2 linked regions of the Homo sapiens genome follow. The protein of the gene in region 1 purifies or fractionates together with the protein of each later gene. This does not show direct contact. Each region holds a gene or a part of one and is shown on either strand. Other genes may lie near its edges.

What was found. Proteins that work in one complex are often made in the same cells at the same time.
Region 2: the proteins of KIR3DL1 (region 1) and PCDH1 purify together in Homo sapiens (affinity purification with mass spectrometry; one large-scale study listed by BioGRID and IntAct). This does not show direct contact.

Annotation. Positions count from the first base shown.
Region 1 is NC_000019.10:54,825,586-54,830,011, forward strand, and holds part of KIR3DL1 (killer cell immunoglobulin-like receptor 3DL1 isoform 1 precursor), read left to right. Parts: intron 1-3,775; coding exon 3,776-3,880; intron 3,881-4,342; coding exon 4,343-4,395; intron 4,396-4,426. UniProt on the Homo sapiens protein: Receptor on natural killer (NK) cells for HLA Bw4 allele. Inhibits the activity of NK cells thus preventing cell lysis.
Region 2 is NC_000005.10:141,868,411-141,871,910, reverse strand, and holds part of PCDH1 (protocadherin-1 isoform 2 precursor), read left to right. Parts: intron 1-2,283; exon of another isoform or gene 2,284-2,306; coding exon of another isoform or gene 2,307-2,394; intron 2,395-2,479; coding exon 2,480-3,342; intron 3,343-3,432; exon of another isoform or gene 3,433-3,500. UniProt on the Homo sapiens protein: May be involved in cell-cell interaction processes and in cell adhesion.

The sequences.
Region 1 (4,426 bases):
TGCTCAGGCTGTGCAGTTGGAATCCTTTCCTATTGTTGCCATAACAAATTTCCACAAGATTCGTGGGTGAAAACAAAACGGTTTTTTAATTATCTTACAGTGCTGTAGCTCAAAGTAGGAAGTGCATCTTACTGGGCTAAAATCAAGGTGACAGCAAGGCTGCCTTCCCTCTGAGGATTCCAGGCAAGAATCTGCTTCTCACTTGTCCCAGCTTCTAAAGGCTCCCAGTTCCTTGGCTCCTGGTCCCCTTCCTCCTTCCTCAAAGCCCACAAAGACTGGTCACATCTCACATGGCATCACTCAGACCCTTCTTCCTTACCACACCTCTTTCTCTGAATGCTGCTCTCCCTTCTTCCTTATCTTTTGAAAACTTGGGGATTCTATTGGGTTCACCAAGATGAAAATCCATCATAATCTCCCGGAAATCATTCAGGATACCCTTGTTTTAAGTTCAGCTGACTAGCAACCGTAATTCCATCTGCAATCTTCATTCCTTCTTTCCATGTAAAATAAGATATTCACAAGCTATGGAGGCCAGGACAGGGACATTTTGGGGTGGGACAGCATTCTCCTGCCTTCCACGAACGGTGAACAAGATGCATTTGGCCTCTGCTCTTGGGACACTGATATTGCAGATGGTTAAATGGGAGGACAGAAAATGAGTGCACAAGTGGACCAATAAATGAATGATCCATTGGGAAGCATCTGTGCATGAAATCTATTTGTTTGTTCGTTCATTTATTTATTGAGACAGAGTCTCCCTCTGTCTTCCAGGCTACAGTGCAGTGTCACGATCTTGGCTCACTGCAACCTGCGTCTCCTGGATCCAAGTGATTCTCCTGCCTCACCCTCTCGAGTAGCTGGGATTACAGGCAACTGCCACCATGCCCGGCTAATTCTTTTTGTATATTTTTTGTAGAGAGGATGTTTCACCATGTTGGCCAAGCTTGTCTGAAACTCCCAACCTCAAGTGATCCGACCATCTCAGCAACCCAAAGTACTGGGATTACAGGCGTGAGCCACTTTGCCCAGCCAGAATTCAAAATAAATAATAGATAATGCTGAGTGTATAATTTTGGGTGACAGAGAAGGTCTCACTAATCAGATATTTGTGACATTAATGAAAAACACGGATTGAACCCCTGAAAGATTGGCGGAAGGATTTTCCACACACAGCTGTCAGCCGTGAAGGCAGAAAGCTGAAAACAATCTGATGTGGAAGGAAGAGGCTCTGCCTGAAATGCTGGGAATGAGGTGGGGAGAATGACAAGACGACTGTGGAGAGACGGAGAGCACACTGGGTACACAGGAAACTAAGGAGCAACAAGGAGTGTGTGTTTGACACTCACAGCCATTGGATTCACCTCGGGGTAGCCAGGAATCCCTACATGATTAATAGTGACTGACATGAAAATAAGGGAGGCCCAGGTGCGTAACTGGAATCTAGGAGACAGTGGAAAAGGCAATTGCCGCCCCACTGGTGAAATGTGGTGCTGATTTAGACCCTAAGTGGATGAAGCAGATGGATATAAGCTATGTTTGGGAGGTAGAATCATTTGCAGGGAGGGCTTGCTGGGTTTGAGTTTCCTAGTTGTTTAATCCTTGCTAAATTAATTTCTTTCTGAGATTTATTCCTCCTACACATAAATCAATACCTGGCAAAGGAGTGACAGATATATGAGGGGTGGTGGAAATGAAGGGACCTATTATAGCATAGTATACAAGTCTGTGAACGGTGGCTCACTCCTGTAACCCAGCACTGCAGGAGGCTAAGGCCAGTGGATTCCAAGAAGTCAGGAGTTCGAGACCAGCCTGGCCAACATGGAGAAACCCTATCTCTACATGGTGAAACCCTATCTCTCCTAAAAATACAAAAATTAGCCGAGCATGGTGGTGCATCCCTGTAATCCCAGCTCCTGCTCTGGAGGATGAAGCAGGAGAATGACTTCAACCCAGGAGGTGGAGGTTGCAGTGAGTGGAGATCGCATCACTGCACTCCAGCCTGGGTGACACAAGGAGACTCCATCTCAAAAAATAAAAATAAGAAATGCATAAATATAATAAAACACACACGAATGACAAAGGCACCTGAATTCCCATCATCATTTTTCTATTTCTCTATAATTACTTCTTTGATCCTTTATCTTATCCATTAGGCAATCAGCCTAAAACCTCTTCCGTATTTGGCTTTCTGTGAGCATGAGATCATATAGAAAATGTGAAAGCCCGCTGAATCCTCCAGCACAAATCCTGGAATAGAGAAAGTGCTCTGGTCATCACAAAAAAAACTTGCCCCCTCACCCAAATCCCCCATCTCACCCCTACTTCCAATCACCTGTGGAAATACAGATAGATCATGGGGAGGTAAATGCTAATACTCCTTGGAGTGAGTCCAGATCTTGGAATCAGAGATCAGTGCCAGCACTAGCTCCTGCTCCCCTTTCCTACTAATTCACAGGAGGACAGGTGGTATTGAAGCAATAGATAGTCGAGGGGGTGGTCCTTCCCCCAGCCTCTGAGGTAGAACAGCAGCCTAACATGTGTCTCCCGAGATCACAAAGAGTAGCACATTTCACACGGGCTTCAACACTATTTTCTGGCTGTTTGACATAAGAGAATTCTACTTCGCTTTTTTTATATTGATTTCACTTTTGTTTCCTTTTCTTGGAGAATGCAAGTTGTTTAACTCAAGAATGCCGTGGATGTAGAAATCCTAAAGCACATTCGCTGTGTATCAATCCCAGTCCAGTCTTCCCAGAGAAGACTCTAAACACCTCCTGGACTGCACCTGGGCCTATGCCAATTCCTATCACTCACCGTCACTCCAGGGAGACAGAACACACAGAGAATACGTTACATAGGCAGGTTCATTACTAACAGATAAGCAGCGAGTGACAACAGAAGCCTACATTTCAATGTGAGCCAGTTCCCCAAGGCTCAGAAAAGCTGCTCGAGACATGTGGAGTCACCCCATTTGCAGTGTAGCTGGGGGAAGCCAGAAAGCAGCCCAGCCTGGGTTTTGTACCCTGGAGCCACAGGAAGCACTCAGCTAAAGCACTGCATGACGTCCTCCTCCAGGAAGAACAGGAAGACAGCCCAGGCTGTTCTGGGACAATCCTCCTGATCTCAGGACTTTGCTGTCTTAGTCCATTTTTGTTGCTCTAAAGGAACACTTGAGCCTGGGTAACTTCTAAAGAAGAGATTGGTTTGCCTCACCGTTCTGCAGGCTGTACTGGAAGCATGGCACCAGCATCTATTTCTTATGATGGCCTCAGGCCGCTCCCACTCTGGCAGAAGGGAAGGAGGGTCTGTCTGTGCAGAGACCACAGAGATCACACGGCAAGAGAGGGAGCAAGGGGGAGGGGGAGCAATGGAGCTTCCAAGCTCTTTTTAACAACCAGCTCTCCAGGAACTAATAGAGAGGGAACTTGCTAACCCCGTCTCCTTGGGACAGCATTGATCTGTTCATGATGGATCCACCTCCATGACCCAAACACCTCCCAAGAGGCCCAACCTCCCACACTGGGGGTTAAATTTCAATGTGAGGTTTGAAGGGGTCAAACATCTCAACTAAAGTAGTTGTATCCTCAGCACGTTCCATGGTTACTATGAGAGCTATAACTGAGAAAGCAGGAGGAAGCTAGATCTCCCGCCATCTGGGTGCTTGTCCGAAAGAGATGCTGTAAGTGGTTACCTGTCAATCAAGAAATGCAAGACAATTCATATAGAGAAACTGCTATGATTAGCTTCTTACTGGTGTCTCCTCTTCTTCCAGGTAACCCCAGACACCTGCACATTCTGATTGGGACCTCAGTGGTCATCATCCTCTTCATCCTCCTCCTCTTCTTTCTCCTTCATCTCTGGTGCTCCAACAAAAAAAGTAAGTCTCACGGGGCACAGGCCAGAGAGCTCAGGGCCATGTGGGGAAGCAGGATGGGAGCACACAGCTGTGTGTTCCTCACTGGCAGGATGGTCCCTGGCCCAAGACAGGAGCCACAGAGGCAGGACTTTCTAGAGAGAGCACCAGACTCCCTGCCCCTGCCTTCAGCTCACAGACCGTTGCCTGATTCTGAACTGTATCCTCATGTCCCCTGCAGCCACTCACATCCAGGAGAAGGTTCCATGACAGGCAGAAAGTGGGAGACAGAATCAATGGGATGGGAACTCAGAGCTATTCATGGGATGGGTCCTTGAGCTCAGAGAGATAGAATGTCTGAGTCTGCTGTTGGCAACTGAGGGACCTCAGGCACCTATGGCCTCCCCCTGTTTGTTGGTATCTGCTTATGAAATGAGGACCCAGAAGTGCCCTCCGAGCTCTTTTGTTGACTTCCGTCTCCTACAGATGCTGCTGTAATGGACCAAGAGCCTGCAGGGAACAGAACAGCCAACAGCGAGGTAGGTGCTCCTCGGCCCAGCCTCGTGGCTA
Region 2 (3,500 bases), on another chromosome or scaffold:
CATTTTACCCCAGGAAGTTCTTAGTGGTGTAGGGGAATCGGGTAAGTGAGCAAGTAAAAGAGCAGTGGTCACACAGCAAGTACCAGGAAAGGCTAAGCCTAGAGAGCAAAATAACAACAGTCATTCAAGAGCTGCCAAGTGCCCACTGTGTGCCAGGTCCAGGGCTAAGCCCTGAGGAGGTAGGAGCAAACAAAGTAGAAACTCTCCTGCTTTCTGCTCACCATCTTGGAGCAAAGACAGACAATTAACACATTTTCCAAACAGGTACACAACTACAATTGTGCTAAATGCTTTGAAGGAGTCCTTTGTTGAGTACCCACATTTAGCCCACAGTATCTCAAACACCCTAGGAAATAGGTAGTATTATCCCCATTTTACAGGTAAGGAAACTGAGGCACTAAATCTTTGCTTCAGGTCATGCAGCCAGGAAGTGAGCAGCTGGGTTTGCCTCAGACTGTCTAATGCCACAACCCTCGCTCTTCTCCACCCTGCTGCCTTACATTCGCCAAATGGTATACAGAAGCAACCAAACAAAATGGACAAATAGTCATTGAGTTAGAAGCACTGTCATGGCAGATTGGACCAGTCTTGTTTACTTCTGCATCCCAGTGCCCAGGACAGAGCCTGGCATATTGTAAATGCCCAATAAACATTTGTTGAATGCATGACTGAGTCCCTACAGTGTACCCAGATGTGCAAAGGTGCATTGTTAGGGGGCAGGGGATGAGTGAGTGTACAGAGTACTGTCCCTTCCTTCGTAGTGCTTTGTGTTTGCCTGGAAAGGCAGAGAACTCAGGAATAGGTGCACAATACTGAAGCTGAACAACACAGGCGGGCGGTGTCCCAGTCAGCCCCATGATTCATTGCCTTGGGATTGGAGCAGACAATAAGTGGCTGTGAGTTGGAGGAAGGAGAGGTCACCGTGGGCAGGAGAGGACTGTGAAGGTTTCCTGGAGGGCCAGAGCCTGCCCTCAGTGGGATTGATGTGGGGTGGGTGTTCCAGGTGTGGGGAAGGTATTCCAGGTAAAAGTGAGGAAGTGGGGAAAGGAGACTGAACCAGAAGCCTCCAAAGAAACTGCTGATCCAAAGATTTTGGATTTGAATAAAGGAGGGACTGGCCATGATTTTGTTGGAGAGGAGGGGGCATTCAAGACAGAGACAGTAGCTGGGTCTAGCTGGGATCTGCAAATGCACGACCTCAAAGCCAGGGGAGATGGGCAGAAGAAGGGGGTTATTGTTGTGATGGGGTACAGCTTGTGGTTGACTAGGGCAGAGGTTGGGAGAGGCAAGTGTGAAGTAGGGGCTGGATATACGGAGATGGATGTCAAATAAGAGCCAGATGTTCATCCAGAGACCAGAGGGTGTGGGGTGGGGGAGTGGCCAGGGAAAGGCTGCTGGTGTCATTATCATCGGCAGCTCTGTCCCAGTTAGACCTGCTGGGCTCCCTGTTGCTAAGGACAGGCCAGGGCAGCTCCCAATGCCAATTCCAGGGCTAGTCAGCCCTGACCACAGTTCTGACCCCAATCTTGACCTGTGTTCCCTTGTACGCACCTGCCCATGGCAGCAGGAGGGAGAGGAGAGGAGCCCTAGCAACTGTGCATGTTCCTGTGTGCATGCTCTGGGGCATGTGTGCATGCTCTGGGGCATGTGTGCACGCTCTGTGGCCTGTGTGCACGTTCTGGGGCATATGTGTTGGGGGAAAGTCGGGAAGGCTAACACCTACTCCTCAACCCTAACCATTTTCACAAGCCTTGCCCAATTCAAGCTGGCCTTTTATGGGGGTGGAGAATACTGGGCACCGTGGGTGATTGTCAGAAAAAGAGGATTTGAGATGTCATACCTCATGCATATGCACTGACTTGGCATCTCAGAACAAAGAGAAATGAGACATCATCCCCTCTCCCTCCAGCCAACCTTAATGGAGCCCAGTGTGACAAGTCAAGGTCCCAGGGTCTGGGGTGTGTAAGGACGTACTTGTGTCTCTTTCCTACCATGCATGTGGGGAGGGGTGCTCCAGTTGGGGATGCTCGAGGTCTCACCCTTCCACTGGCTCTCTCTCCCTATCTCAGTATCAAGGTAATTACCATCGGTGACTAAGGCAGGATGCTCGTGAGAAGGAGGTGTTGGGTGAAGCACAGAGCAGAGAGCAAGGAGGAAAAGAAGGAAAGAGGGCGGGCAGCCGGGCTTGGGCCCAGGGAGCGTCAGGTGGGTGAGGGTGTTCCATGGGCGGGAGCTGCTCTAGGCATGCCAGGCCTCTTACTGGCTCCTCCAGCTGGGGCAGACACTGCTGCTACACCCAGCTGTGGATGAGATTCAGGGATCTGAGTTTCTGGAATCGGGGTTCTGTGCTGGGACTGACTGCTCTTGTGGAGAATCGTGTGTCAGTGGGAGAGGGTGAGTATGGGGCCAGCTCTGGGCAGCTCAGGGCCAGGCTTTTCTTCCCAGCTCATGGCCTCTGTTTTGCCTCTTCCCCTTGCAGCCCTCCTGATTCTGGGGCCTCCCAGGATGGAGCACCTGAGGCACAGCCCAGGCCCTGGGGGGCAACGGCTACTGCTGCCCTCCATGCTGCTAGCACTGCTGCTCCTGCTGGCTCCATCCCCAGGCCACGCCACTCGGGTAGTGTACAAGGTGCCGGAGGAACAGCCACCCAACACCCTCATTGGGAGCCTCGCAGCCGACTATGGTTTTCCAGATGTGGGGCACCTGTACAAGCTAGAGGTGGGTGCCCCGTACCTTCGCGTGGATGGCAAGACAGGTGACATTTTCACCACCGAGACCTCCATCGACCGTGAGGGGCTCCGTGAATGCCAGAACCAGCTCCCTGGTGATCCCTGCATCCTGGAGTTTGAGGTATCTATCACAGACCTCGTGCAGAATGGCAGCCCCCGGCTGCTAGAGGGCCAGATAGAAGTACAAGACATCAATGACAACACACCCAACTTCGCCTCACCAGTCATCACTCTGGCCATCCCTGAGAACACCAACATCGGCTCACTCTTCCCCATCCCGCTGGCTTCAGACCGTGATGCTGGTCCCAACGGTGTGGCATCCTATGAGCTGCAGGCTGGGCCTGAGGCCCAGGAGCTATTTGGGCTGCAGGTGGCAGAGGACCAGGAGGAGAAGCAACCACAGCTCATTGTGATGGGCAACCTGGACCGTGAGCGCTGGGACTCCTATGACCTCACCATCAAGGTGCAGGATGGCGGCAGCCCCCCACGCGCCAGCAGTGCCCTGCTGCGTGTCACCGTGCTTGACACCAATGACAACGCCCCCAAGTTTGAGCGGCCCTCCTATGAGGCCGAACTATCTGAGAATAGCCCCATAGGCCACTCGGTCATCCAGGTGAGAGGCCCCCTCCGTATAACTGTCAGGGTGACCCACCACTAGAAATGGGAGCCCACCCAACCAGGTGAGAGTTCCCTTCACTTAGGGGAAAAACTGCCAGAATACTGTAGTGAGACCCCTTCTCCCCAAACTCAGCCAGGGGAGTCTTTCCCACC